3 separate regions of the Homo sapiens genome follow, and regions 2 and 3 are each linked to region 1. Evidence: fine-mapped expression QTL. A gene starts in region 1. Each other region holds a variant in brackets. All regions are shown on one strand. Distances are between the middles of the regions.

Evidence for each region.
Region 2: its variant is fine-mapped to the expression of WWC3 in thyroid (GTEx, PIP above 0.99). The same link has a PIP of 0.9 or more in tibial artery.
Region 3: its variant is fine-mapped to the expression of WWC3 in whole blood (TOPMed, PIP above 0.99).

Annotation. Positions count from the first base shown.
Region 1 is chrX:10,009,926-10,020,517 of GRCh38, forward strand. It overlaps WWC3 (WWC family member 3), which reads left to right and starts at 5,329. Exons shown (of 24, transcript NM_015691.5): 1 at 5,329-5,748; 2 at 5,751-5,933. The coding sequence starts at 5,654. RefSeq lists enhancers at 3,444-4,327, 4,328-5,211 and silencers at 5,032-5,201, 5,242-5,301.
Region 2 is chrX:10,100,247-10,110,258 of GRCh38, forward strand. It overlaps WWC3 (WWC family member 3), which reads left to right. Exons shown (of 24, transcript NM_015691.5): 10 at 9,532-9,774. Among named protein-coding and RNA genes, the nearest start is that of CLCN4, 52 kb to the right of the region's middle. RefSeq lists enhancers at 9,173-9,890, 9,891-10,012. The variant C/T (reference allele first, on the strand shown) is at 5,121.
Region 3 is chrX:9,981,359-9,991,950 of GRCh38, forward strand. No RefSeq gene overlaps it. Among named protein-coding and RNA genes, the nearest start is that of CLDN34, 19 kb to the left of the region's middle. The variant C/T (reference allele first, on the strand shown) is at 5,579.

The DNA of each region.
Region 1 (10,592 bases):
GCCTGGCTCATAAAGCAGAGGTCTGTAGTTTTAAGGATCTGTTTTTCCAAATACACAGGGGACCAGAGCTCTAATCCTAAATAAGAGAGAAGCCAGCCAGGAGGAAGTATCTTGTAGTGTGCTGGCTCACGGCTGCTGCCTCTTCCTAAAATTATGGTGTGCTTAGAATACATTTTGAATTGGCCCCTTCACATTTTGTGGAACAGAACCCATGGGAAGGGGAGGAAAATAAGTAAAAGTGTAAGGCTGGAAGAGGAGACCTGGAGACGAAGGAAGTGAGTGGCTCTGAGTTTTCTAAGTTTGGGAGAGAAATTGGTCTACATTTTTAAAAAATCTGAATTTTAATCACCCAGGCACAAATGCAACGTGCTTAAAGCATGACAGCCATTCACTGATTCCAAGGATGATGTTGTTTTGTGATGCGCATCCAGACACGGGAATTAAGCGCTAAAATGAACCAAACGCAGACTGGCAGGTTTATCCACACAGTGGACGCTTTGGGAATACCCTGCCTGTCTTTGGAGTGGAAGATTAGGACATGAGAAAAACCTGAATTTTCAAAATGGACGCATCTACACAAATCAAGGAAGTCCCAGTTGAGAAAAGTGCCCCCCGTCCACACACGAAATCTAAACAGTGACTTTTTTTAATACAAGTCAAATAAGTGTCTAAAGTTTACGTCTTTACATAAAGCCATGAAATAAAACACCAAGAAATAACCTCACCCTGTCCCCATTCCAACTCCTGAGCCTGGGGAGGGTCCCCTTAGGGATCTTTGCAATTTACCCTTCCTTTGATGCCCCTAAACCAGCAAGACAGGAATGAACAAGAACAACATCTAATCTCCTCCAGTGCTTGTGGATTTGCATTATTTAAATATATGAGAAACACCCATAATTGAGTAATTATTCTAGCATTTAAAGAATGCCAAACAATGAACCATTTCTTCTTCAGACCTAATCCGGCCCATTTCCGTTTTCCTCTTAGCACAATGTGTAGAATTACCCAATGTGTCGCTTCCTAGAACACTTGATTGTTTATACAAGGTAGGCAAGACTTCTCTGGCGGTGTTTATTTTTCTCATTTTACACTTGATGATTGTAGCCTTTACAGATTTTCCTTTTCTAGACGCTTATCAAGTACTGAATGTGTATGGATCCAATTTTGCACTTTCCTTTTTACAAATAAAGCTTATCCTTTAGGCGAGGGCTGGGGAGAGAAGGCAGAATCTGATAGTAAAAATCTTCAGACTCTGTCCTTGTTGGAGTTACTCCTTAACCATCATTTTAAGGAAAGTATTCTGCAAGTTAGAGATCAGTGCATTGTAACAGCTTCAGAAAGGGGATTTCCCAGAGGGTCTGGGAGGAGAACAAAAGCATTTGCATCTCCTTTCCCCAGAGACTAAGTGGATTTTTCCTGAGCTGCTTTTCCATGTGAAGTCTTGGTGGGAGGATGGAGCACTACACAATGTTCGTGCTTTTGCTGTTGGCCCGGCTGTGGTTTTAATGCGGAGGAAATAAAGAATGTAGAATTGTGCATTCAGTTAGGACTCAAGACTCCTTCGCCCTGCAGTGTTTTGTGTGTGTGTGTGGTTTTTAGTCCGATGTGGAAAGCCCCACTTGACTGTAAGAAAGACAGGCCTTATTCTAACAATTCACACACACACACACGCACACACACGCACACACACACACACAAAGAGAGAGAGAGACAGAGAGAGAGAGAGAGAGAGAGAGAGATCGATCCCAATTTATGGCAAAGCTGGGAAGTCAAGAGTCCCTTCACACCCCTACCAATTTCTCTTCCTTTCCATCTCCATTCACAAGTCTTTAGGGACCATCAGCAAACGCCTGGGGCTAACATTGCACACAAGTGGAAAAGGACTAATGGTGTAATAAAGAGGTCTTGGTCACCCCAAGCGCTGGCCTCTTCCTCTCTGGTTCAGCTCCTTTTAGGAAGACAAATGCAATAGCCCCACTTCTGTTCTCTCAGGCAGAGAGTGTCCAGAGGCAGTGGCTGGGCATGTGGATGAAGTTTTCTCAGTGAGGGTCTCCAATCTCTCTTCTCTGGCATGCTGTGTCACACTTCTTTTGCCTCTATTAATGTGCAAATGAAAGTAGGAATGCCTCTAGATGTTTTGGTGATTAAATGAGCTCGTATTTGCTAAGTGCTTAGATGACAGTAAGTGTGCAGGAGCCTATCTTAGGTCAGGCTCTTTAGAAAGGGTGCCTGAGACGGGGGTTCTCGAGTGAGCGGCTGATTGGAGGCATGCTTACACGAGTAAGGGAGGCGGGACCGGGCAGGGGAGGAGCTGGCAAAGCTATGATTTCCAGAGAAGTACAGCCTCAGCCTGATCCCATGGGGGATCCCATGGGGAGCTCTGGGGTGTCAAGGGCATTCGAGTTTGTGTCACCAAGGCAAGGAAACTGGACGGTCAGCTCCTGGGGCTGGGTGTAATCTCTCAGACATCTGTGTTAATGAAGGGTCATCTTCACAATACTCCAAAAGAAGGGAGCCCGCCCCAGCATCTGCTATACAAGTAAACAATTTCATGACAGCAGCTCCATGTGCCAAGGGGCAAGAGCTCAGAACTTGGGAATCTGAACATCTGAGCCTCAGTTTCCTCATCTGAGGCACCTTCCCTTTGGTCTCACAAAGCCTCCCACGAGTCCCCAAATTGAGGTTGGCACCCTGGCTTCATTTGTTGACAAGTGACAATTGTATTACAAGGGCCTATTTCTATGTTTAGTCCCCAAGGGAGTGCAAGCTGAAGCACAGACTATCCTCTTCCCTGCAGCATGCCTACACGCAGCACAGTGTCTGCGCGTGGGAGGTCCACTATTTGCTGCCCGCCTGAACGGGTAGAAATCTTTCACCTTCAGTGAAGACTCCTCGGCGCTGGCCTCTTTGAGCTCCTAATTGGATGCAGTTTCCCCCACTCCTTGCTCTACCTGATGCTTTTTTCATCTTGCCTTTCCTTCTGAGTCCTTTGATGTGTGGTGTATGTGTTCTCCTCTTTCCACTCTCTCTCTGCAGAAGTCGGTTTCACTCCAATACGCCCCAGCCCCATTCAAAGTACTTTCGAGTGATAGATTTGTGTCCAGATTTGTGAGATTCTAAAAGGACCAGGTGACAGGGAGGGTGGAAATGCAGCTTCAGAACGGCCATGTTGGGTGGTAAGGTAAGAAGGCAGTGGCAGCCCCACTGGCGATAAATCATGCCAATCGGAAGGGAAGATGTCAGAGCAGGGACACTCAGCACTTGGGGCATTCCCTGGCACATGCGACATCACAAAATATGTGCTTTTTTGACCCTCCCACTCTTTCCCTTGGACATGTAATAATCACACATGTTTAAAAGGACTCATGCGGTGGAATTTCTCACATAGAACATTCAGGTAGGGGTAGATAGATACTTGGGGAGCAAGAAAGTTTCTGTGTTGTAGTAGGAGGAGGGAGAGGAAAGACCTTCCTTGGATAGTTTTTTGGACGTCGCTATACCTTCACAACTTCACATTCTTCTTCTTCTTCTTCTTCTTTTTTTTTTTTTTTTTTTTTTTTTGAGACAGGGTCTCTGTTCCATCGCCCAGCCTGGAGTGCAATCGTGCAAACACGGCTCACTGCAGCCTCGACCTCCCTGGCTCAAGTGATCCTCCCACCTCAGCCTCCCAAAGTGTTGGGATTAAAGGTGTGAGCCACCGAGCCCGGCCCCACATTCTTCTAATTTTTTTTTTGTTGTTGTTGAGATGGAGTCTCACTCTGTCGTCCAGGCTGGAGTGCAGTGGCGCGATCTCAGCTCACTGCAACCTCCCAGGTTCAAGCAGTTCTCCTGCCTCAGCCTCCCGAGTAGCTGGGATTACAGGCGTGCGCCACCATGCCCGGCTAATTTTTGTATTTTTAGTAGAGACGGGGATTTCACCATGCTGGCCAGGCTCGTCTCGAACTCCTGACCTCGTGATCCGCCCGCCTGGGCCTCCCAAAGTGCTAGGATTACAAGCGTGAGCCACCGCGCCCGGCCCATTCTTCTTTTTTAAAACAACCTTTCCCCTCATAAAAGTAATATTACCATTTTACAAAAAATTGGAAGGCAAATCATTTTTAAAAATCCCGCCAAAGGAATGCAAACTCTTGTGAGCATTTCAGGACATTTTCCTCCAGTCTCTTCCCCTGTGTATCTGGATTTCAATCAGGCTCTACCAGATATTTTTGTATCACTGTAACTGTTTAAAAATCTCCCTGATACTGTCCTGCATTTCCTGGCATAACGTGTTGCGGCTGTGGGTCTGGGGCACGAAGTAGGTGGGAGATTTAGAGCAAGACACAGCCCCAACTCTGGAGCTTCAGCTTCCCCAGCTGGGAGCCAGTGAAACAGAAGTTCCCGTCTAGGCTGAAAGTTTTAGGAGTTGACCCGGCTTCCTCCCCAGCAATGGTCTACTTGGGTCTCCGCTCAAACGATCAGACCCCACAAACCGGATGAAGCGCTCAGGGAAGGTCAAGGAACTCCCGCCTAGTGTGGGCCCCCAGGTTAGCCCTTCTAGGGCTGTCCTGGCGGGGACGCAAAGTGGCCACCTGCCCAGCTGCCCGCTTCCAGAGGCGTCCTCCCTGCGCCGCCCGAGAGGACCGGCCGCGGGCTCCCCCAGCTCCTCAGCTCCCTCGGCCCCGCCTTCAGGGGCTTTTCCCACCTTCGCGGGACCAGACGGGTTGTGTGGGAGACCGAGGGCGCAGCCTCCCGCCAAGTGCGCAGAGGGTCTCCAGACAGCCAGAGCCCGGGAGCGGGTGAAGGGAGGGCACTGCCCGCTCTCTCGGGAATTGTTTGCGCCCGAGGAGTCACCCCAGGCAGGCCGCGCCCGCAGTCCGGGTAGGGCGTCGTCCTCCCCGCCCGCCTTCCTCTACGCGGGGGCCCGGGGGCGGACTGACGCGGCGGCGCCCATCCTGGCCTCCATGCGGTTTCCCGAGGCCGGAGGAAGGTGGCGGAGCGGGAGGGAGAGAGCGAGGAGCGCGCGGAGAGGGAGGACGGCGGAGGGGGAGGAGCAAGCGGAGGGGTGGGGGTGGGGTCGAGGAGCCGAGCGCCGAGGAGGACCCCGAGGGAGACTGGGGGCGGAGCAGCCGGCGACGGAGAGGCGCGGAGGACGCGGGGCCGGGGGAGGCGGAGCAGCGGGAGTGGGTGGAAAAGCAGAGGCGGCGGGAGGAGCGGGAGCCTCCGTGGGAGATTCGGGAGGAGCAGCCGGCGTGGGTGGAGCCGCCGGCGTGGGAGGAGCCGCGGGGCCTGGGTGAGAACGGGGCGGGACGGCCGGAGGCGGGGCCTGCGAACGCCCTGCCCCTGCTCGCCCGGGCCGCGCCGAGGAACGAAGATGGCCGGGCGCGCCGCGGGAACGGAGGGGCGGCCGGCAGCGGCGGCGGCGGCGGCGGCGGCTCCCGGGCTGTGACTTCGCGCGCGGCGGCCACCCGGGCTACCTGAACGGAGTGGGCGGCGCGGGCAGCGGCTTGCTAGGGCGGGCGGGCGGACGCCGGTGCACGGGCGCCGGGCGGAGGATGCGCCAGGAGCGGCGGGCGGCTCCCCGCGGCCGCCCCCGCGCCCCGGGCGCCGGGCCTTAGTGCTGGCGGAGGAGGCGGCGCGCGCGGGGCGGCCGGGCGGCGGCGGGGCCCGCGCCGTCATGCCTTGGCTGAGCGGCGGCCGGCGGCGACGGCGGGGACAGCCGCGCGAGGCCCCGCGGGAGCCGCCGCCTTCTGCGCAGCCCCAGCGGGAACCGCGCCGCCGGCGCCCCCCGCCGCGGTCCCCACGCCCCCAGCTCCTTCCGCGCCGCCGCCGCGGGCCCGGGAGAGCGCCGAGCTGCCGCTGCCCGCCGGCTGGGAGGAGGCGCGAGACTACGACGGTCGCGTCTTTTACATTGACCACAACACGCGCCAGACGTCGTGGATCGACCCCCGCGACCGGTAAGCGGGCCGGCTGGGGGCGCCAGACCCGGCGCGGGCGCTACGACCCGGGCCGCCGGCCGGCGCCACCGCGGATGCGCTGGGGACACGCCCCGCCCAGCGCGGGGCCGCCGCCGAGAGCCCCCGGGCCCGGGCAGAGCTCGGAGCGCCTCCATCCCCGGAACCAGGGGACTCCCTGGAGTGCTCCGGTCCAGGCTACGATCGAGGCGCCCCCATCCCTTGGGCCCAGGGAGAGGATCGGAGACACCAGGAGGCCCTCGGGGCTGGGTGAAGATCTTTGGTTCCGGGGGTCCGGGAGAGGATCCACCCTCCCAATACCCCGACTCCCAGGGCTCTGACCAAGAATGGAGGTGCCCCTTCTCCAGGCCTCGAGCCCTCTGAGCGCCGAGGCCGGCCGCCTACAGGTCCCCCGCCGCTGGGCGGACCCTCTCATTCGGTTCCCTCACGTCACCCGCTGTCCGGCGCCTGGGAACTGGGCTCCTGGAATTTCCTCTCCTGGGGCTGACAGATGGCCCTCTTTTCCTTTCTCTGCGGCAGCCTCGCCCATCCCGGTCCCGGGCGTCTGCGGCCCACTGCCCCGGCCCTGGTTCTGCAGGTGTCCCCAGCCCCGCGGTGGCGAGATGAGCTGTCACCTTGGATCACAAACGTGCGCCCCAGCTTTGGGGTGCGGGTTCCCTGTCTGGCGGGTTCAGGCTGGTTTCCATCCAAAACCTGATGTCAGACGGGCCCTTGAGGGATTCCCAACCCTTTTGGAGTTGGAGAAGTCTGTTCCCAAACTCTAGTTGCTCTTTAGCGCCTTAAAACTCGTGAGTTAAAACTGTTTGAAATAGCCTTCTGTACTGCAGCCAGAATGCAATATGATTAGTCCCATATGCTTTTGGAATAAACGAAAAACAAGAATTGTATTTTAAGTTTCCTTTTTGTGAAAGATATGCATGGGGTACAAAGCTGTCTTATTCACGTATAAAAACCCAATCAAGTAAAAACTGATTCTTGTAAAAGCACTATCAGATTTCATTTAATTAATTCCATGTAACGAAGCTCTTCCTTAACTTTTTGCTCGATTGTCTACGGGTTTCGATTGTTCAACTGCTTTTACAGAGATGTATTTTGTGTGGAATTGGGATTTCTGTGGACATCAAGTGTTTCCACAGGTTATCTGATGTCTTGTCCTCTCTAGAGCAACTCTCCTTCCAGGGCCTGAGTGCCAAAAAGGAAACACCACAGGCTTCCCAGTGATTTGAAGACTTGCAAAGGCCCAGTGTGGTGACATTGTGCCTGCTTCCTCCTACCTGCACAGGGAAGGCGGCCTGCATGGCACTGGCGTCTGAAAATAAACTTTTGAGGAGAGAAGCTGCTGAATTGTTTGAAGATTTCTCTGAGTTCAAGCAGGGGAAAACAAAAGAAAGCAAAACAAAAAGATCGTGATTCCCTAACATTCTCGCTGAACATTGCAAACCTCTGGGCTCAGAAACCTATATCAATCCTAGTACAATTTTATGGGTTAAAAAGATGCCTAGTTATTTTGAAAATCAGGTGAGATCATGTTATAATTTTAACCAAAGGCTAGAGCCCCAGCTGTTTGATCAACCCTTGGATGGTTCTGGAATTGGTAGAACTGCTTGGAATGCAGTGCCCTTTTATACCATATGTATGTTAAAAACCCAAACAACTGGAAAATGAACCAATTAAAATAGTGTTTTGCTTAGAAAAGGCTAAGGCTCACTTTCCAAGGGTAATATAAAACAGTTGTGGTTATATTGGAGTGGAGATTCATGCTGAAAGATATCAATGTGAGGATTTTCTTTTTAATGGTGTAACCTGTGACAAACGTGAATGGACCATACAGAAATCAGCTTGGAGAATCTTGTTTTCCATGTATTTCAGACACATTTCCTATATTCCTTTTTTCCAGAAATCGATTTGTTACTTTTCAGACAATCACTTAAAGGTTTTTAAAAAGTCTCCGTTCTGATGCTAAAATTGTCAATTGAGTCAACAAAAGTGGATATTTTACCTTTTTTTTGTAAAGTAAAAACGTGTGTACTTTTATGAGACGTTGTTTTTATAGTGAGTGAAAATTCAGCAGGGGACAGCTTGAACTTCAGCTCCCATAATACCTTGCCCGAAATATGTATGGAATGTTCAGCAAGCCACAAACATTTAAGTGGAGTCGGCTGAAGGCTGTAATAGTCATTCTTCTTCCTCTTTCAAAACAGAACCTGGCCGAGTTTTATAGGTGGCGGGTTACCCTTTAAAGTTGTAATTAACTTTTATTATATGGGAAGAACTGCATGTCAGAGGGCAGTGTTTTCTCCATGCGCATCTGACAGTTAAAACCCTTTTTGAGTTGCTTTTGAGTCACACAGGAAAATGGTATTCAAGAAATACGAGGACTTTCACCAAACAGCTTCCACATAGAGACCTGACAGGAGAAAGGCAAATACATAATAGCTTTTTTTTTCTCTTTAAGAAAATGAAATTGTGGTGGAATAAATGAATGTAGTAGGTTAAGTGAAAATTGTTGTTGACTTTAAACATAATTTCATATAAACTTTAGTAAAAACTGTATAGCATAAAATATGGTCCAAGGATTGTAAACAAAATCTCTTCTTGAGTTTTATAGTAATTCCATTCAGTGTTGTGTTTAACATTTGATAGTGCCGGCTCAGAGCCTGTTGGTGAAATTATTGTAACTGCTTTTTAAAGTTACAACAAAGAAGATACAAGGAGACGTCTTTACGGATGTGGCTACAGATGTATACACAATCTCAATATTTTAAAAACAATTTTTTAGTTTGATTATAAGCCTACCTTTGGTTGGCTGGGCGTGGTTGCTCATGCCTGTAATCCCAGCACTTTGGGAGGCTGAGGTGGGTGGATCACTTGAGGTCAGTTCAAGACCAGCCTGGCCAACGTGGTGAAACCCTGTCTCTACTAAAAACACAAAAATTAGCCGGACGTAGTGGTGTGCGCCTGTAGTCTTAGCTACTTGGGAGGCTGAGGCAGCAGAATCACTTGAACCCTGGAGGTGGAGGTTGCAGTGAGCCGAGATCGCGCCACTGCACTTCAGCCTGGGTGACAGAGAGAGACTCTGTCTCAAAAAACAAACGAAAAAACCTACCTTCACTTTAAATTCACTATTTCTATAGATTGATACTGTACATATAATTTTCATAGTTAGTTTACTGGGAATCATACCCAAGAACTTGGTTAAAAACTACAAAGTTAGGCCAGGCGTGGTGGTTCATGCCTGTAATCCCAGCACTTTGGGAGGCCCAGGGGGCAAGATTGCTTGAGTCCAGGAGTTCGAGACGAACCTGGGCAACATAGGGAGACTCTGTCTCTACAAACAAATAAAATAATTACGTGGGCGGGGTAGCGTGCGCCTATAGTCCCAGCTACTCAGGAGGCTGAAATGGGAGGATTGCTTGAGCTGGGGAGATCCAGGCTGCAGTGAGCCGTGGTCATGCCACTGCACTCCAGCCTGGGTGACAGAGTGAGACCTTGTCTCAAAAAACGAAACAAAACCCCACACCAAAAAAAAAAAGAAACGAAAAAACAAACTACAAAGTTAACTTATTTCTATGGCTGGTAGTTTCCTTACATGAGTCTTGTGTGGTTTACATTAGTGGCACACTAATATCTTAACTGAATATATTAACTCAGAATAACTTGACCACCTTATGAAAAGGTATTTACCATTGGGCAGAAAATATGGGAAGAACATTTTTGCCCCCTTTGTAAAGATTCACTGTCTTTGACAGTTGTGTTTACGTGTGTGTCTTGCAGGGTTATTTGGGTATTATCCTATAGATGGACTGAGTGTTTGAAACCTCATGTTCCATTTCCTGTAGCTCAGGTGGAGTTGTACGGTACTGGAAATGCCAGCTCTGGGCAGCTTAAGTATGGTGGACGATACCATATTTGAGATCAAAGTATAAATAATCATGCGGATGGCGGAAGAGCAAGATCATGTCATGGCATAAGCTTTTGGGGACCCATTTGTTCACCAGATGGGATTTGACCTGTGCTTCATGGAGGAATTCTGTGGTATCTTAAAAGTCTTCTGAAGATGCTTTTGCTTTAAGAGGAAAACAATCCATAGCTCTGGAATTTGCTAGGTTGGATCCCCATTTAACAGCCAAATAACATCATTGCTACCTTCTTGGAACCTTTATTTAGTTATTCAGTATTAACTAATAGGAGGTTTACTATATTCATCCCACAGAGTCTATTTTTGGACTATATAAACTGTCCTGGTTGAGCTTTCTGATAAACAGGTAATGATTTCTCCCTTTTTCTTTTTTTAAGGTTATAGATAGTGTTTGTATGAACATGGGGGAGCATCTTGTTTTTAAGGCTGTAAGGGGTCAGTCCCTGGAAGAAGCGGCTCTTGCTTCCATTTAGATCATCAATCCTCATTTTTTGGTCTAACATTTTTTGGTCTTTTCCTTTCCTTCCATTTATTTGTTTATTTATTTATTCATTTATTTATTTTTTAAAGAAAAGTGAAAGGAAAAGTAATTCATTTCCAAAAATAGCTCCTGGATGTTTGGAAATCTCCAAGTTTCCTTCTCCTTCCTTTCACTCTGATTTGGGAAGTGGAAATAACACGTATCACCATCTCTAGTTAGGTTCTACTTCAGGAGCCCATGG
Region 2 (10,012 bases), 90 kb after region 1:
AGAGATTTCTTTTAAACTCCACCTGGGTGGGCCTGCACAGGTGCTGCCTGTCCTTTTCCCACTAGCATAGTGGGGCTCCACACAGGGAGCAAGGCCTTCACCCTCCAGGAGACCTCCAGCAGTGTCTGCAGACATGTTTAGGTGTCCCAACTCTAGGGCAGGGGCCAGGGAGGCTGCTTGACATCCTGTTGTGTACAGGATGGCCCCCGCAGCAAAGACTTACCCGGCTCAGCATGGCCGCGGTGCCAAGGTCCAGAAACCTCGCCCTGGGGCTTCTTCCTGTCTTGCTCCTGAATCTTCACGATGCATGGACAACAAGGGGCCTACATGAGCAGGTCGCCTGCTGACTCACAGGCATCAGCCTGCTCCCCACTCACCCTGCTCCAGCCAATCGGCCCCTCGATGTTCCTCAGATGTACAAGCACGCCTGCACTGAGCAGCCCCTCGGGCCTCCCACCGGGCCTCAGTCCCACCGAGCCAACTCCTGACCTAGCATCTGCAGCTGGCAGAATGATGGTCCGTCAAGGTGTCTGCATCCTGATCTCCACAGCCTGTGAAGATGTGGCTTTCCATGGCAAAAGGGACTTCGTGGATGTAATTAAATTAGGGATCCTGAGATGATGGGGAAATGAGCCTATATGATCCAGGTGGGCTCAGTGTCATCACAAGAGTCCTCATAAGAGAGAGACAGGACGGTCGGCAGTAGAGAAGGAGATGTGAGGTTGGAATCAGAGATCAGAATAGTGTGGGGCCAGGAGCCAAGGAGCACGGGCAGCCCCTAGAAGCTGGAAGGTGCAAAGAAACAGATTTTCCCCTGGAACCTCCAGAAAGAACGCAGCCCTGTAGACCCATTTTCGACTTCTGCCCTCTAGAACTGTAAGGGAATAATAGGTGTTGCTTTAAGCCATTAAGCTTGTGGTAATTTGGGGCAGAAAAGAGCAAACTCATACAGTGCCCTTGGCCTGTTCTGTCTTCTCTGTCTGGAATGGGGTGGCTTTTCTCCAAATTGTCACATGACCTCTCCTTTTGATCACCTTGTTAAGAGAGGTTTCCTTGACCATCCTGAATAAAACCTCACCACCCTGTCCTCACCCCGGTCCCCCTGATTGGCTGAGCAAATGTTATTACCTAACCAGTGTTTACTTTTCTTACTGCCTGTCTCTCCCTGTGAAAATGTAAATAACCCTCATGAGTGCAGGGATTGTAGGTCATTGCTGTAAGCCCAGCAGCTACATACTTGGTGAATATTTATTGAATGAGTAAATGAGGGTCCCGTGTGGTTGCATTTGCTATTTGGCCTTTGCCCCTGGGACGGGGCAAGCCAGGGCAGTCCCGGGGCCAGGTCAGCTCCAGGCCAACTGCTCTGCTCCTGGGTCCCTTCCTCAAACCTCCATCCAGGTGTGAGCCTTGGGGTCTCTCGCCTTGACTTGAGAAGGGAAAGGGCTTCAAGACATGGGTGCCTTTAGGGATCTGAGGTAGGCAAGGAACTGTCTCTCCCTTTCAAGGACTATGTTCAAGGTGTGATACGTCAACACACCGAGCTAGACTAACAGTTCTGGGCCTTCATGGACATTCAAAAGGGCTACTAGCCTTTGAACTCCATAATTAATCCTCTCCTTGGGGGTTGGAGAAAATGGCATTGGAGTTGGGTCCTGAAGGAGTGCTGGGATTCCAGTCGCCGTCCATTGGGGATGGGCTTTCTCAGGTAAGAGTGGGGGTCAGGAGTGGGGGTAAGGTGTCACTCTGCAGCAGCTGGACTGGCCTGGAATTGCAGAGCAAAGGCCAGCCAGGCTGGAATGGAGGATGCATGAGCAGGGAGGCAGGCCACGGCATGGGGGCCACGATGCCCCGAAGAGGGGTCAGAATTGCTGGGCATGCTGGGACGTTTGAGTTGGAAAGATTAAGTGTGAGCCATTCAGATGGTGGTATGTGGAGGAGGGCCATTTGAGGAACCCAGATGGCATAGAGATGAAGTCACCGAGCAGCTGGGCTCACCTTGGGAGATGGAACACAGGGAGAAAAGAGGAGATGCCAGGACTGAGCCTGAGGAAGTCCAATCAAAGGCCTGGCGAGGACGAGACTGGCCAGAGGGGTGTAGTAAAAGGTCCGAGAGGGGATGGCTGGGGCTGGAGGAAACAAGAAGAGGAAGTACACCTGAGAAGACACTTATGTCCACGGGCCCAGTGGCTGTGAAGGAACGAAAAGGGGGTGGTACCGTTGGCCGACAGGCAGGCCTCTGCTTCCCAAGCCCAGCCTGAGGTGTCCTTAGTCCACAGTGCATGGGAAAAAGGAGGGCCAGCGGCAGGTGTTCCTAAAGCCAACTCGCTGCTTTCCAGTCAAAGAAGCCTCTCATTCTCAGAGATACATACATATGTACATACATACATATAAATATATATAATTAATATATGTTTTATATATATTTAATACATATTTATTGTATATTTTTATATATTATATTTATAATACGTGTTTAATATACATTTTTTCATATATATTTTTTTCTGTTAAAACATCTTTCTCTTAATTAACTAATGATGATCATTGATGTGAATTGGTTTTTTCCAAAAGTCTTTACTTGGCAAAATAACAAGCTGGCAGTCCTAAATTGTTGCCATCAGCACATCCCCTTTCTTAAATTGGACTGGCCTGGGGGAAGTGTGACTGAGATGGTGCTCTCCCTGGAATTAAAGGAGAAGGATGACCCTAAACAGGGTTTCCAGAGGCTCACAGTAAAGTGGAGGGTCATTTGAAAGGCAGATCTTGGTTTTGACCATGAGTTTGGTGTTTTCAGTGGACTTGAAGCTGCTGAGAAACATCCATGAAGTGTTCTTGTCGGTGGAGTCCGCAGTGGAGATTGCAGTTCGCTGAGTCATTGATTGCAGCTCCCTCCGGGCTCTGGTTCCCAGATGCGGCGGTGCACGTCTCCAGTCCCCTTGGTGTGATTGTTTCTGCCTCCAGTCATTCCACATTGGTTACTGTAGCTAAGGCTTGACCAGTAAGTGCATGCCTGCCATGTGAACTACTCAGCTGTAGGTCACATAACCCTTAGCAGCCTGGGCAAGGCCCTAGACTTTACATACCTTGTAGCGTTGTCAGGATAGTCTTGGCTCCCCTCTGCCCCATCCCTGTAGACAGATGGAAGGCTAGGAAGGGTTGATGTTATCAGGTCTCCCCAGCACCAGATGAGCGATTTCATTACAATGGTGTTTTCCGAGTGTTCTGATGGACTGCCTCTAAGTGAGGCACGAGAGTAGAACGATACAGACTTGGGGAGAGAGCAGTGGCAAGTGGTTCTCTGGCAAGAACTCAACATTAACATTCCAGGAGCCAGGTGCTGAGTACCACAGGCAAAGCATGGTGGCTTTGAGGTCCCGTCCATGGTCTCTTCCTCGGCCCCCTTGATCAGGCTGGGAGATAATGTCTCTGATATCCCTGTGAGCGTCCCTGGAGAAGTGGTGTGCCATGAGCAGGAAGGCATCATGTACCCCCATCAACCCACCAAAGCATGAAAAAGAACACGTTGCTCTTAGTGGCAGTGTTAGCAAAGAATAATGCGTTCTTCCCTGCTCCCTCATTCCAAGCCTAAGGGACATCATGTGCCCTTTCCTCTTGCCCAGGTGAACTTCTATTAGATTAGTGCCACAATTCAGTGTCGTCTTTTCGTTCTGCTACTTCGCCGTTGGACATTAATCTCCCAGCTCTCATTCCTGAAATCATTTCACCCTGCAAGCTTACCTTCCCTACTGTATTAGGTTCTGCAGAGAAACAGAACCAACAAGAGTAGGGGTAGGGAAGAGAAGGGAGAGAGATTATTTTATTATAGGAATTGGCTCACGCAATTATGGAGGCCAGGAAGTCCCACCATCTGCAAGCCGGAGACCCAGGAAAGCCAGTGGTCTCATTCAGTCCAAGTCTGAAGGCCTGAGAACTGGGGGTGGGGTGGGGTGTGGAGTGGGGTGGGTGGGTGGGTGGTCATAGTGTAAGTCCCAGAGTCTGAAGGCCTGAGAACCAGGAGCTTTGGTGTCTGAGGGCAGAAGGTGGATGTCCCAGCTCAAGAAGACAGACAGAATTCACCCTTCCTCCACCCTTTTGCTCTATTCAGTCCCTCAATGAATTGGATGGTGCCCACCCACATTGGTGAGGGTGGATCTTCTTTGCTCAGTCCACTGATTCAAATGCTTATCTCTTCCAGAAATTCCTTCCCAGACACACTCAGAGATAATGTTTGTACCAGCTATCTGGGCAAGCTTTAGCCCAGGCAAGTTGACACACAAAGTAAACCATCATGTATATCCTCTGCAGAACCTCCTGTGCTTTGCCACTTCTGAACAGTGGAGGATTTTATGCCTTAGGCATTTTGGACGTCTTTCCTTGCACATATATATTTGAGATTATTTTTAAGATGTGGGAAATTGTCAAAAATGCCGAATTCTGGACAATGAGGGATTTCATATATATATATACATTCAGATTTTTTTTCTTTCCTTTTTTTTTTTTTTTTTTTGAAGACAGGGTCTCGCTCTGTCACCCAGGCTGGAGTGCTGGAGTGCTGGAGTGCTGGAGTACAGTGGCGTGATCTTGACTCACTACAACCTCTGCCTCCTGGGTTTAAGCGATTCTTGTGTCTCAGCCTCCTGAGTAGCTGGGATTACAGGCACGTGCCACCATGCCTGGCTAATTTTTGTATTTTTAGTAGAGACGGGGTTTCACCATGTTGGCCAAGGCTGGTCTCGAACTCCTGACCTCAAGTGATCCACCCACCTCAGCCTTCCAAAGTACTGGGATTACAGGTGTGAGCCACCCCACTCAGCTGGATTTCATATATATTCAGATTTAAAGGAAGTTTGTGGAAGTGGAACTCATAATTCTGAGTGGTGATGTGATTTCTAGAGAATTCTCTGGCCAAACGACCACTATCATGATGACTAGTTTTGTGTTTTTAACTGTGGGTCCTGTGAAGCGTACCAAAAGGACTGCTTGCACCTTGCCTCAGGAGCGCCTCTTCGGATTCCCAAGGCAGACCTAATGATAGGAATATTCACACTATTGATTTTAAAATTTCAGAAATTTTAAAAGTGAAGTTGAAAGAGCAAGTCTTCTTGAAGCAATCCCGATGA[C/T]GCAGATGGCTCCTTATTTTTAACTTAAGGGCGCTTGTTCCAGAACTGTGCACAAACTGTAGCTGTTACCATAGAAACACTCTCAGTCCAGATAGGAACAAAACATTCGGTCCATCCAGTTTCTCTGCCTCTTAGTTTTTGTTGCCAGGATCAGTCCTGCTGTTCATCAGTTGTCGAGGATCAGTGTAGTGTTATGATTCCAGTTGAATTTGATCAATCACTTGGATTTTTTCATTTCTCAAATGACTTCCTATCTGGGTTTTAGGGGTGGGGCACAGTTGTGAGAAATAAGGAAAAGCATCTTTGCCACTGTGGCTCTGTCTTCCCTATTCTGGTCAACACGGAGAAGCCTGTAGACTCACTGCTTTTTATTTGATGAAGTTGCTCTCTGAAGATCTGTCTGTTGCAAAGGGAGAAGATGTCAGGGCTGGGAAGCTGAGGACGGGGTGAGATATTGGTGTATTAGTAGACCTTTCTTATCCCACATATTCTAGATTCAGACTTCTCAAACTTCTGACATAAAGAGTTGAGTAGAATGGACGCTGGTTTAGTTCAATCAGCTGAAGTGATTTCATTGTCCATCTGACTTACATCTCAGCTGTTTTCTTTAACCTTTGCTTTTTATTTAAATGGGTATTTACAACAAGAAAACTAAGAGAAAATGTAAGGAGTATCGAACCTGTAGCCGTAATTGCAATCTGAAGGTATGAGGCTCTAAGCTGACCCCGCGTCCTGGAATGTGCCATTGGGATCCCTCACGACTCATCACCATGGGATAGGACCGTGGGCTGTCCAGAGTTCTGCTTGCTATTCCAGAAAGCAGCAGGATTTTAGGACCATGAGAAATGATATTGTAGACTGCAGATTTTTGGTATAAATTCAAATAATTAGGGATTATTCTTGATATGCCTCAGAACTTTTTATTATTGAAAGTGCATTGTTTTCCTATAAAAATGCAAATCGTATTTAAGATTTTCATGTGAATTGTGAGAGTCTAAATAGTTTCTGCGGCATAAATGCATGGTTTAATGGTGCCTGGGTTGTAACAGAAAAGTGTTTGAGCAAAAATCATAAGGGAAAAATGATTCATATTTTATGTCTGTCTACATTAGACCTGCTCAGGGAATAGAATTTGGGAAACACATAATAAATAAGAAACCTGCATGCTTGATTGAACATTTGCTTTCTTCACTATCAGGACACGGGGGCATATATTTTAAGGCTTTTAAAGGCATTTGGGAGAGATTTTATATAGGCCATAAAATGCATTACCCCTCAAAAATAAAAATCACTGAAGAATATAGTTGGCTCACAGAAAAAAAAAAAAATCCTCTCTAATTTTAAGCTGCTATTAGTTCTCTTTACAAAAAACTCGGGAAAGTTATTTTGTTTTGCAAACTTTAACCATGACCTTGCTTTACTTCCATGTATTTAATTTCACTGAAATGATATTTCAAAGAAAAGCCTTTCTGGAAATTGTTTTTCCTTTAATACCCAAAATTGGAACAACAGCACTCACAGGAGCGAGGCTCCAACCAGTGGATCAGCTGTTTGGCGTGGATGTAGAAGAAGGTGCATTGAAACTCAGTACATCTGTGTTTAGCCTTAGGCAGGAAGTCTGTTTCTTCAAGTAAACCTAACGTACTAAAGATACTCCCTGCAGATGGCTCGTTTCCGGCCCACGGCAAGGTAGACAAGTCATACGGTTTTAAAGGCAAAGCCGTCTTGTCTGTCTCATGGGGACATAAGAACAATCGATTGTTGAAGGAATCCTAGTGCTTTTGGCTTCCAGTACAGACAGACAGACAGATGTGCCTCTCTCGACCTTGCTGAAGCAGGCCCCAAATGTTCACACCTAGAACATGGGGACAAAGAAAGAAATTGAACTTTTCAATATGTTCCAGTTTCTTCTAGATTCATATATAGCTCTGAAATGAAGATGAGATTGTTTGCATTGTTGCATTGTTTTGAAATTTTATTATTAAACCCCACAATTGGAAGGCACAGAAATGTTTGCCTAGCATTCAGCACAGCCCAAACATTTCCAGATGGGTTGCAGATTTTGTTTCTGCTGGAGAGGTCGTCCCTTGCCGTTTGTCCTTGCATATTTTTCCTGCCAGCTGTGGGAAGTGACAGGACATGGTTTAATTTGGGCTGCTGTTCTGTTTCTTTATGCCTGCAGCAGACAGGTCTTTTGAAACTCACCCTTTGCCTCTCCTCCCTCCTATAATTCATTTTTTTCCTCATTCTTTTTTTCCTGACAGTGCATATTACTTGAGATTTTCCTGGAAAGGTTGTGATTATCTGGAATTGGATCTTCCGCCACCTTCAACAGCTTGAATCCTTGTAGGCTAGCAGCTAACCTAGAGCTGGCAGACTCAAATGGAATCTTGATCTCTTCATATTTAAGGCTCAGAAAACTCAAAAGGAGTGTTCTGTAAAATACTTCTGTTTATATTATATGTATGGTAATTAGTATGAGTATAAAATGGTCGGGCAAAATTTAGCTGGGCTCAGACTTTCCTGTGGATCAGATAAATGGAAATGAAAAAAAGTATGAGGACACAGATTTGCTGATTGTTCTTCATCTTTTATATTTATTTCTTAACTTGTCTTGGTCTACTGTAGAATGTTCCAGAAATGTCATTGGGTATAATGTCTGATTTAGCACTGACTTATTTGTGGGTTTGCTTGGAGTGTATTTTCCTTGGGCTTTGGATATATGACTGCCATAAATTTTAATTACACTAATTAGACGTAGGTGGATGCTTAAGCCCAGTTGGAGTCCTAGCCCTGTTCAGCTGCCTCTGTCATTAGTTTTTCTGGTGACATGGTTTGGCACCATCTTCCAACACGTTTTCCAGACATTAGTTTTAAGTTAGAAAATAACTTGTCTAATAAAGCTACTGACATTCAACTAGTGTCTTTACCTTGTTGAAGTGGACTTGAGTAAAATGCATACATTTAAACTGTAACTTGTGTACCCGTTTCTTTCCTTAACTGTGGGCTTTCAGATTCGTTTGGTGGCTAGAGAGGGAGTCATGCCCGATCCTCATGAGTCCATGTGCTCGTGTCTAGTTTAGGTGGAGCCTGACTTGGCACAAGGCTGGGTGGCAGGTTTTAACATGTGTGGCAATGCTAGTCAATTGGGGATATCCACATGGCTCATAGTGTAGAGAAGGCTTCTGAGGTCTAGACCCAGCAGGTGGGAAGCCAGCCTTGGTTAGTGCCGTGGACCGCGGGCACAGGAGGAGGCAGTCTCAGGAGCACCTCTGCCCTGCATCTCCCTCGGAGGATATAGGGCCACGTGTGCCTGCCACTTCCCTGTTCTCACAGCTCTTTGTGATCTCAGAGAAGCCTCTGGATTTTGTTTTTGGGCGAGTATGCCAACTATGTCCTCCACAGCATGGGGTTCAGGTTGAGTTTGCCATTCCTAGTTTCTCCCTAGAAACATATCCCTGATCTTTAACCCTACTTAAAGGGCTTAAAACATTCTACTCTTACTTTTAAAGGATGCTTTAAAAATACAGGCCACATCTGTTTCACTTAATCTGCATTCAACAGCACCTCATGACACAAAAAGTAATGCAGTCTGTTTGCCAAGCAAGCACTTGGAAATTTCGAGGCATGGAAACTGATAGGAGCCTCTGTTTTTCCACCTTGAGGATTGTTGCGCTTTGCATCCACCCAGATCATCTCTCACCAGCATCCATGCTCACAGGGCTGCCTCTCTTCCTCTCACATATTTGCAGGCGTGTTTGTTCACTGTTCAATGCACTCAGCTTTTGTCGAGTGCCCACTTGCTCTCCGCAAGGTGTTTTGAATTCATGTATGGCCAGGGGCTCTGGTGCAGGAAGGAGCACACAGAACCAGAAGACGCGGAGCATGGGGCTTCGAAGGTCTTTCCTTCAGGACGCCAGATGATGAGTGCATTTCTCCTTTGTTATTTTGCTAAAGCGGCTGACAGTGGTTAGACACAGCTGAGGAGGCGGGAGGCCGGCAGCACTTCTGGGGGTCCAGCATGCTGTTTAGCTACTGATGAGGGTGGGCAGAAGAAACAAGCAGACTCCCTCCTGCTCTGGGACAGTTTCATGTAGGAAACCAGGAGTCTGAGCCGCCGAGTATGGGCATGTTGAGGGCTGCTGGCCTTTTTGTCAGTTCTTCGGAACAGGCACGATGGGGTTATTTTCATCTCGAATCTCAGGCTAAGGGAGCTTCAGGAAAAGACTTCTGCACCATTTTTTAGGACATTGTTTCCATATCCTTTTAAGTGTAAGGGTCACTTGGTGTAATCATTTCACTACTTATTTGGCAAAAGGAGTTTATAGAATCAGTGTGAGACGTGGAGAAGGTGTGAAGACGGCGTTTTCAGTCCGCCGATGTCCTTTTTTCCTCCCCGTCTCTCTTGCAGAGTCGCCAACATCCAGCAGCAGCTGGCCCGGCTTGACAATGAGTCCTGGCCAAGCACGGCCGAGGCTGACAGGGACCGGCTGCAGCTCATCAAGGAGAAGGAGGCCCTGCTGCAGGAGCTTCAGCTCATCATTGCACAGCGCCGCTCTGCGGGAGATGTGGCCCGGCTGGAGGAGGAGCGGGAGCGCCTAGAGGAGGAGCTGCGGCGTGCACGGGCCACCTCCGCACAGGGCGCCACGGAGAGGTGGGTCAGCGGGGACACGACCTCCAGCGGAAAGCCTGCTGGAAAAACTCCACGGGGTGGCTTGTGTGTGGCTGGAGGGTGTTCCTGATGATCACTCAGAGCCTCTCCTGCCTGGATGTTCCCTGGCCTAGGAGGGGCATGCGGTGGGGGGCACTGCCTTCTGCTCCCTGGGTCTCTGGAGCCTCTGCTCCGAAGCAGGAGGTGATTGACAAGGGGGAAGGAGTGAGGGAAGATGGGT
Region 3 (10,592 bases), 29 kb before region 1:
GAGAAAGAAACTCAATTTCTGGAAGACAAGCAAAACAATTGCTTGTCTCCATTCTGCATTGGAAACATTCTCCATTGGAAACAGGGAGAGCAAACCAACAGTACTTGCTAATAGATTTGATGACGGGGGAGGGTAGAGGAAAGTATATCAGATCTTGTTTTCTTTTTTAAGAGACAATGAAGCAGAAGATATAAAAAGAAAAACAATTTTTTTGTTCCTTGTTCTGTTCTCGTAATTATTTTTGCAAGTTTTGTAAGTTCCTGTTTTTCCCTTCTGTGTGGCACGGCAAGGTCACAAGATATGTTTTAAGTTGCAAGGCCTGTCACTGTTTAACAAACTGCCTTTGTTCTGCTTCTGTAAGCTTGCTTGCCTGCCCTACAGGTTTTGTGCTATCAAACTGGCCAACCCCCTTCTGGATGCATGTATAAAAGTGAAGCCCTGTCTTTGTTCGGGGCTCAGCCTTTGGATGTTAATCTGCTGGGCCGGTGCGCACCTAATAAATCCTCCTGTCCCACCCATTGGTCTCTACTGTCCCTTAATTCCTGCAATAACAAGGTCTCACTTTGTTGCCCAAGCTGGAGTGCAGTGGCACAGTAATAGCTCACTGCACCCTCTACCTTGAGGGCCCAAGCATCCTCCCACCTCAGCCTCTGGAGTAGCTCGGGCTACAGCGTACACCACCACAGCTGGCTGATTTTTTGGTTTTTTGTAGAGACAGGGTTTCCCTTTGTTGCGCAGGCTGGTCCTGAACTGCTGGGCTAAAGTGATCCTCCTGCCTCAGCCTCCCAAAGTGCTGGGATTACAGGCGTGAGCCACTGCACCTGGCTGGAAACACTCTTAAAAAAGCTTGAGGTGGCCGGGCGTGGTGGCTCACACCTGTAATCCCAGCACTTTGGGAGGCCAAGGCGGGCAGATCATGAGGTCAGGAGATCAAGACCATCCTGGCTAACATGGTGAAACCCCGTCTCTACTAGAAATACAAAAAATAAGCTGGGCGTGGTGGCGGGCACCTGTAGTCCCAGCTACTCAGGAGGCTGAGGCAGGAGAATGGCAAGAACCCAGGAGGCAGAGCTTGCAGTGAGCCGAGATTGCACCACCGCACTCCAGCCTGGGCAACAGAGCGAGACCCCATCTCAAAAAAAAAAAAAAAAAAAAAAGTTTGAGGTTAGTGGTCCATTTTTATTTCTATTTTATTTTTTAATTGACAAATAATAATTGTACATATTCTTGGGGTGCATAGTGATATGTCAATACATAGAATGTACAGCAATCAGATCAGGGTGAGTAGTGTATCCGTAATCTCAAACATTTATCATTTCTTTGTGTTGAAAACATTCAATATCCTCCTTTTAGCTATATATTTCTAATTTTAATTTCATTTTCTAATTATTTTATTTATTTATTTATTTTAGAGACAGTGTCTCACTGTCGCCCAGGCTGAGTGCTGTGGCACAATCACAATTCATAGCAGCCTCAAATTCCTGGGCGCATGTAATCCTCCTGCCTCAGTCTCTTGAATTCAGCTATTCAAAACTATTTATTATTTTTAACTCTAGTCATCTAACAGTTGGTATAGAACACTAGAATTTATTTCTCCAATCTAGCTGTCATTTTGTATCCTTTAACGAAATTTAAATGGAAAGTTAGAGAAAACCAACTCAAACTAGCTTAAAAAATAAATCAGGCTGTCCAAGTAGTAGTTTCAGAAACAGGTGGTTCCACAGATCTGATATACTTTCCTGTACCCTCCCCCCATCGTCAAATCTATTAGCAAATACTGTTGGTTTTCTCTCCGTCAGGTAGCTTGGACCCATCCACTTCACCTAGCAAACCAAGCTTCCATCATTTCTCAGCAGAAAACCAAAATGAGATGGTTTCTCCACTTTCACTGTTGCCTTTCTGATTGGTCCATTTTTAAACAAATTCTACTTTACCAAAAGTCACTTTTCTTGAAAAGTCCGGGTATGAAGGAAAAGGTGTTGGTTTTGCAGCCAGTGTGTTGGCATAAAGCTGTGTGGTGATCAAAAGAAGGCCTCCAGTGGAAAGGAGAAATCCACCCATCCAGCCGCTGGACATGGCATTGCCGCATCCCCCCGGGGCTTGTTGGGTGGGAACTCTGAGCTTTAGAACCTCCACACGGTAATATGGGCAACGTAGGACACGGACGCTCAAGTAGTGAGTCCGGCCAGAAAAACCAGAGCTCCCCCAGCAATGTTGACACTTCTCTCCCAAGAACTTCCTCCTCGGCCCCAGCATCTCAGCCACATCAGTCCCAGGATGACCGCCACAAGCCCGAGAGAACCCACAGCCCCGGCCACGCACGTGAGGACACGAGCCACCTGGAGTTTGGCAGCCAGGTTCTTTGGGCTGGCACACACTGGCACCTGTGTCTCGAGTCACACATGCTTCCCAAAGGCCCAGCATGTACTTCTCACTCTCGAGTAAACCCGAGGAGAAAGTCGGCCACTGAGGCATGCACACACAGGCCACTGAGGCATGCACTTGGCAGGCCACTGAGGCATGCCAGGGAACAGACGCGGCCAGCCACAGAGGCCAAGAGCCCCACATTTTGAATCAGCCAGATCGCCCTGCTTTTCATCCTGCTCTCCAGGCCCAAGTTATTCTGGGGAAACTGTCTCTCGGTCACAACAGGACTGGCTCGTTAGATTGACATCTTGACGGATTCGCCGCAGTTCGTGCCAGCTGGTCTGCAACCATTAGTTCAGTCCTTTGTCAACCAACCAGAATGCAGCTGCTTATTAAATCGGGTTACTTGGTAACTGGGCTGCTATTGTTCACCCTTAACTAACGCAGATGAATACCTACCATCAAAATAGGCCCAATAGAAAACCTGCTGCCAATACAGAGCCAGGTGGGAGAACCAGCAGATTGAGACAGGTATGCAGGCTTGGGAGAATTCTTGCTGGTTATAAAAGGCATGCATTTTAGCAATTTTATTTCCAAAAGGTAAACAGTTTGGGATACGGAGTTATTAGACATTAGAGTCATCTATCACGGTTTGTTTTTTTTTTTCCTTTTCTTTTTTTCTTTGAGACAGAGTCTCGCTCTGTCACCCAGGCTGGATTGCAGTGGTGCCATCTCGGCTCACTGCAATCTCTGCCTCCTGGGTTCAAGCAACTCTCCCTGCCTCAGCCTCCCGAATAGCTTGGATTACAGGCACACACCACCACACCCGGCTATTTTTTGTATTTTTAATAGAGATTGGGTTCAGCCATGTTGGCCAGGCTGGTCTTGAACTTCTGACCTCAGGTGATCCGCCTGCCTCGGCCTCCCAAAGTGCTGGGATTACAGGCATGAGCCACTGCGCCTGGCCTGATCAAGTTTTTAAAAAGAGTATTTCTTCACTTTTAATTATTTTAAATTCTCTTTAGTATTGTCTCTTCCAGGGTTTGGTATCTGTATCTGGTTCCATCATTCCTAAACCTACCTTCAGAGAAAACATCTAATTAATTACCCACACCTTCCATTAAAACCAGAGATTGGGATCATTTTGAATTAGAAGAGACAGACCCTTATGATCCCACAATTGTGTTCCTTGGTTTTTATCCAAATGAGCTGAGAATTCACGTCCACAGAAAAACCTGCGCACAGATGATTATAGCAGCTTTACTCATAATTGCCAAAACTTGGAAGTAACAAAGATGTCCTTTGGTAGATGAGTGGATAAACAATGTGATACATTAAGACAATTGGATATTTTTCAGCACAAAAAGAAATGAGCTATCAAGCCATGACAAGACATGGAGGAACCCTAAATGCATATTTCCCAGTGAAAGAAGCCCATCTGAAAGGCTACGGACGGTAAGAGTTCAACAGTGTGACCCTCTGGAAACGGCAAAACTATGGAGACAGTAAAACAATCGGTGGTTTCCAGGGGCTAGAGAAGAAGGAAAGATGAAGAGGGGATTGCAGAGGATTTTTAGGGCAGTGAAACTATCTGTATGCTACCATAATGATGAACACATATCATTGTACGTTTGTCCAAATCCATAGAATGTACAACACCAAGGATGAACCCTAATGTCAACTATGGATTCTGGTGACGATGACATGTTGATGAAAGTGCCCTGAGGGATTGTTCACAGACCTACACCAGGAAAAGAAGTTTCTGCTCATGAATGCCACTCTGGCTCTCAACCTGTGCATGAGTGAGATCCCCACAGACGGGAGCTCACAGTTCTCTTTCTGCCCCCATTAACCTGGAAGGAATCTGGCCTCAAGAGGTGGGCAAGATTGGATCAGGCACCAGAGGCCTTGGCGGTCATTCTTGTCAGGCAGCCTTGCCAAGCTGGAGGCAGAGGCTGGTGACAGGTGGGACAGCAATTCCAAGGAGAGGTGGTGATGGCCCAAATCAGGGGCATGGCAGAGCCGTGGGGAGAGAGGAAGAGAGATGGAGGGGCAGCAGTGCCGGGATGTGGGGGTTACTGGGAAACAGAGGACAAGCAAATGCGGTGACCGGAGGGGACACCTGCACTTCTCCGTTGGGCAACTTCCCGTGCTCACGGAGGCCTCTCATGTTGTTCGTAAGCTACTGAGGCAGTGTGTGACGAGATGCTGAAACCTTGGCTGGTAAATGCACTTCAGGCCTTCAACTTCCTGGCTACTACAGCCGAGGTGGGGTTTGGGTAGCTGTGAGTAAGCCAGATGCGACGGACCGTGTAGTGATAGAGTCCTCACTGAAAGGTCCAGAAGAAATCCCATAAGGTCATCAAACCCAGGCTCTGAATGGAGTTCCACTAGGACACAGTGGGCCCGTGGATGGTAACTGTCACATCCACAAGGCTATTCCTTGTGGCACAATCTTCGTCATAGGATCATTGAAACAGCTGAACTTGGTGGGAAGAAATCGGGAAACAGCTTTTGTTTTCCTACCACTACCTTGCAAACACGATGTGGATGAACCTTGAAAACATGATGTCGAGTGAAAAAAGTCAGACACAAAAGGCCACAAATTGTACAATTCCATTTATATGAAATGTCCAGAGTAGAGAAATTCATAGAAACAGAAAGTAGATGAATGGTGGGCAGGGGCTGGGAAGAGGGGAATGGGGAGTGACTGCTCATGGGCACAGGGGTCGTTTTAGGAGGGACAAAAATGTTCTGAAATTGATGGTGACAATGGTCGCACAACCTTGTGAATGTACTAAAAACCACTGCATTGTATGCTTTACACAGGCGAGTTGTACAGTATGTGGATTATACCTCAGTAAAACTGGTATATATATATATATATATAAAGAGAGAAAGAGCGAGAGAGTTCCACATTAATTTCCGATAAGCACCCTTTGTAAACTAAAAAAACAAAAGACACTTCATTCAATGCTGTCTATCTTAAACGAACACTTAAATATATCTTTAACGATGAAGGATTAGTACAGTTTTTTCTAACCTTGGAGTGGTGGGGGCCATTTCAGGATCGCCTGTGGGGCCTTGTTCAAATCCACCCTCCCCCCAGCAAAGCACCCCCTTCACTGACCCTGGTCTTCCCACACTTGTGAATCACTACATTAGAAGAATTCCCTGAAAATAGGGAACCAGACTTGAAAACTTGTCATTA[C/T]CAAAGTTACGTAAGATTGCTCTGGAAGTTCCTTTTTTTTTTTTTTTTTTTTTTTTTTTTGAGACGGAGTCTCAGTCTGTTGCCCAGGCTAGAATGCAATGGCGTGATCTTGGCTCACTGCAGCCTCTGCCTCCCAGGTTCAAGCGATTCTCCTGCCTCAGCCTCCTGAATAGCTGGGATTACAGGCGTACACCACCACGCCCAGCTAGATTGTTCTGGAAGTTCTAGCCAGGGTGCTGTAAGTCAGGAGACAGAGAAAAGAGGTATAATTATCCTAGAAGGGTGTGTGAATCTTTGTTCAGCTAAGTTGACCCTATACCTAAAAAAAGTCCAAGAAAAGTTATTACACTACAACAGAAAGTTCAATTATATAGCTGGATACTAAATACACAAACATCAACAATCTTTTCGTGTTCCTACACAATGAGCCAGTTTGAAATTAGAATTGAAACAGAGTACTTTCACACAAAAAAGCAATAAACTCCCAAATATCTAGCAATAAGCTTAATATGAAATGTGCAAGACCCTGTATGTTGCAAACTGCTCAACCTTAGTAAGAGCCAAAAGAAGCCATGGAGACATGTCCCCAGTCCCAGATGGGGAAATTAAATTTTGCAAAGTTGTTCCACCTTCTGAGATTAATTTGTTGGCTTAATGTGATGCTAAGCAAAATGTTTATGAAAATCGGCAAATGCAAAAAATGAGCAAAACCTGCATGTATTAAGATTGTTACAGTTTATTAAGTGTAAAGTTTATATCCAAAGAAAACCAGTGTAAACACATATCAATCTCTAGTTAGTGGCATACTTGCTGAAAACTTAGGGGGATGTGTACTGATGTCTGCAATTTACTATGAAATGTATGAAAGAATAAGATGGATTGATGGATGGATAGAGGGATGAACAAATGAATAGGTACATGAAAAAGACTATAGTAATCTGCCTCTTATCAGAGCAGAAAAATGAATAAAAAGAAAAAGGAAAATACAGTAGAATGTTAATGAGAGAATCTGGGTGGTATTTGAGTTGTTCGCTAAAATTTTTTCAACCTTGTTTAATATGGGAAAGTTTTTGGCTGGACACAGTGGCTCACGCCTGTAATCCCAACACTTTGGGAGGCTGAGGCGGGAGGATCGATGGAGCCCAGGAGTTCAAGACCAGCCTGGGCAACATAAGGAGACCTTGTTTCTACTAAAAATTTTTACAAAAATTAGTTGGATGTGGTGTTGCATGCCTGTGGTCCCAAATACTCAAGAAGCTGAGGGAGGAGGGTCTATTGAGCCCCGGAGTTAACGGCTGCAAGGAGCTATGATCACGCCACTTCACTCCAGCCTGAGTGAAAAAGTGAGACCCTGTCTCAAAAAAAAAAAAGGTTCATAATAAAATGGGAAAAATACAGAGCAAAGAACAACAAAAACCAAAATGCATATAAAAGAAGATTCCAGCTTGAAAAATATGAGCTGGATAAAGATGGGGTGGAAATGGGCTAAAATGTTAACTATGATGAAATTATAGGTGATTTTTATTTACTTGTTCATACTCCATGCATTGATTGAGCTTTTTCTTTCTTTTTAAAAACAATATCCAAGTACTACTTTTATTTTAATTTTTTTAAACAGGGTCTCACTCTGTCACCCAGGCTGGAGTGCAGTGGTGTGATCTCGGCTCACTATAGCCTCAGCCTCCCGAGTAGCTGAGACTACAGTCATGTGCCACCATGCCCGGCTAATAGTTTATTTTTTTTTTTGCAGAGATGGGGGTCTCACTTTGTTGTCCATGCTGGTCTCGAACTCCTGCTTAAGAGACCTTCCTGCCTTGGCCTCCCAAAGTGTTGGAATTACAGGTGTGAGCCATTGTCCCTGGATCAGGAGTTGCTTCTTATGGATGAGCAAAGAAAGTAGTTTCTTAAGACACAATCTCCTCCTGGTGAAGATGTTGTGAACATTATTGAAATGACAACAAAAGATTAGAATATTCCATAAACTTAGTTGATAAATTAGTGGGATTCTTCCATTTCTCCACCAGGTGACAGCATAAGCACGTCAAAATAGCAAAAATTGTCTCAGAACACAGTATTTGGTCTGACATTGAACATTACTGCTGTTAATTGACTAGGTGTTTATTTTGACATGTTACTTGCACAAAGGATTAGAATATTATGTCAACCTAGTTGATAAACCAGTAACAGGGCTTGAAAAGATTGACTCTACTTTTGAAAGAAGTTCTAATGTGAGTAAAATGCTATCAAAAAGCATCGCATGCTACAGAGAAATCTTTTGTGAAAGGTAGAGCCAATTGATGCAGCAAACTTCCTTGCTGTGTTATTTTAAGAAATTGCCATAGCCAACCCAGCCTTCAGCAATCACCACCCTGATCAGTCAGCAGCCAGCGACATAAAGGCAAGACCCTCCACCAGCAAAATGATTACAACTCACTAAATGCTCACATGATCCTTAGCATTTTTTAGCAATAAAGTGTTTTTTGTTTTTTGAGACTAGGTCTCACTCTCGCCCAGACTCCTGGAGTGCAGTGGCACTATCACGGCTCACTGAAGCCTCAACCACCCGGGCGCAAGCGATCCTCCCACCTCAGCCTCCAGAATAGTTGGGACTACAGGTGTGCACCACCACGCCTGGCTAATTTTTGTATTTTTTGTAGAGATGGGGTATTGCCATGTTGTCCAGGCTGGTCTTGAATTCCTGAGCTCAAGCAATCCTCCCGCCTAGGCCTCCCAAAGTGGCGGGATCACAGGCATGAGCCACCTCGCCCGGCCTGCAATATAGTAATTTTAATTTAGGATACTACATTTTTTTAAGGCATAATACTATTGCACACTGAAGACTACAATATAGAGTAAACATAATGTTTATATGCATTGGAAAACCAAAAAAAATATGCGACTCAGGTTATAGAGATATTTGCATTATTTTGGTGGTCTGGAACTGAACCTGCAATATATCCAAGGTATGTCTGTGGGTGTGTGTGTGTGTGTGTGTGTATGTGTGTGTGTGTGTGTGAGATGTTCATGGCAACATTTATTTTTAATAGAAAAGAAAAGAACTGGCCAGGCGTGGTGGCTCTCGCCTGTAATCCCAGCACTTTGGGAGGCCGAGGCAAGTGGATCACCTGAGGCCGGGAGTTCGAGACCAGCCTGAGCAACATGGAGAAACCCCATTTCTACTAAAATTACAAAATTAGCCGGATGTGGTGATGGGTGCCTGTAATCCCAGCTACTTGGGAGGCTGAGGCAGAAGAATTGCTTGAACCCAGGAGGTGGAGGTTGCGGTGAGCCTGAGATGGAGCCATTGCACTCTAGCCTGGGCAACGAGAGCAAAACTCTGTCTCAAAAAAAAAAAAAAAAAAAAAAGAAAAGAAATTAAAGCAACCAAGATATCTGAATATCTGAACAGGGTCAAAGGGTCAAACTACTAGATATTTGTATAAATGAAGAAACTTGATTTTAGGTAAACAAAGCAAGAATCAAGTATAAGAACCATGTCCAAGATTAGCACCTAAATAGCAGAAAAGCTGACTTTATACTGAGAGAACTATTATACCCTGATTTGTGTATCTCTCCTACCTAGGAACTCAGAATCTTGAGTCAATGGTAAAGTGAAATTATGGGTAATTTTTTCTTTCTTTGTACTTTTATGGATTCTTTGTTCTATACTGAGCATGTATGAATTTTTAATAAAAGTTATAAATAATGAACACATCTGGATTTTATAAATTACTCTACATTCATAAAGCATTCTTCTGCAAGGTGGCAGCATAAGCCCTTCCGAGTACAGTATTTGTCCTGAAATTGAACACTATTGCTGTTCATTGCTCAGTTGTTTATTTTGACATGTTACTTGCACAAGCAAATTATTCATTATATTGTTAATTTTTATGAAAGAATTACTATATATTTATTGCAAAGTTGGTATACAGAATAGGATAAAACTCTAAATCACCTGTTGTGGCACTACTCAGGTATAACCAAGATTAACACTCTGAAATTATCTTCATGTTCACAGATGTGTGCTGGAAACAGGAAATGACATGTTTTTAAAGCAAAATGTGCCACCCCATACAATTGTTTGCTTTTTAAAATTTAAAAAAAAAAAAGTTTGTGGCCGGGCACGGTGGCTCATGCCTGTAATCCCAACACTTTGGGAGGCCGAGGTGGGCAGATCACCTTAGGCCAGAAGTTCGAGACCAGCCTGGCCAACATGGTGAAACCCCGTCTCTACTAAAAATTCAAAAATTAGGCGGGCATGGTGGCAGGCACCTGTAATCCCAGCTACTCGGGAGGCTGAGTCAGGAGAATCACTTGAACCCGGGAGGCAGAGGTTGCAGTGAGCCGAGATTGTGCCATTGCACTCTGGCGGGGGTGACAGAGCAAGACTGTCTCAAAAAATAAATAAGTAAATAATACATAAACAATGATTGCGAGTACATAGTAGGTGTATATAGTAGGAAACTACTGAAGAAGTTTGAAGCTAGCAGAGGCTAGTTCATGAAGCTTAAGGAAAGAAGCCGTCTCCATAACATAAAAGTGCAGGGTGCAGCAGCAAGTGCTCCAGAAGACCTAGCTGAGACCACGGATGAAGGTGGCCACACTCAACAACACATTTTCAATGTAGACGAATGGGCTTATATTGGAAGAAGATGCTACTAGGACTTTCATACCTGGAGAGGCTTCACAGCTTCAAAGGACAGGCTGCCTCTTGTCAGGGGCTAATGCAGCTGGTGACTTTAAATTGAAGCCGACACTCATTTGCCGTTCCAAAAATCCTAAGGCCCTTAAGAATGATGCTAAATCTACTCTGCCTGTGCTCTAGAAATGGAACAAAGCCCGGATGACAGCACGTCTGTCTAGAGCATGGTTTACTGGTTTACCGAGTGTTTTAAGCCCACTGTTGAGAAGTACTGCTCAGAAAAAAGATTCCTTTTCAAATGCTACTACCCATTGACAAGGCACCTGGTCACCCAAGAGCTCTGAGGGAGAGCTCCAGGGAGATTCACATTGT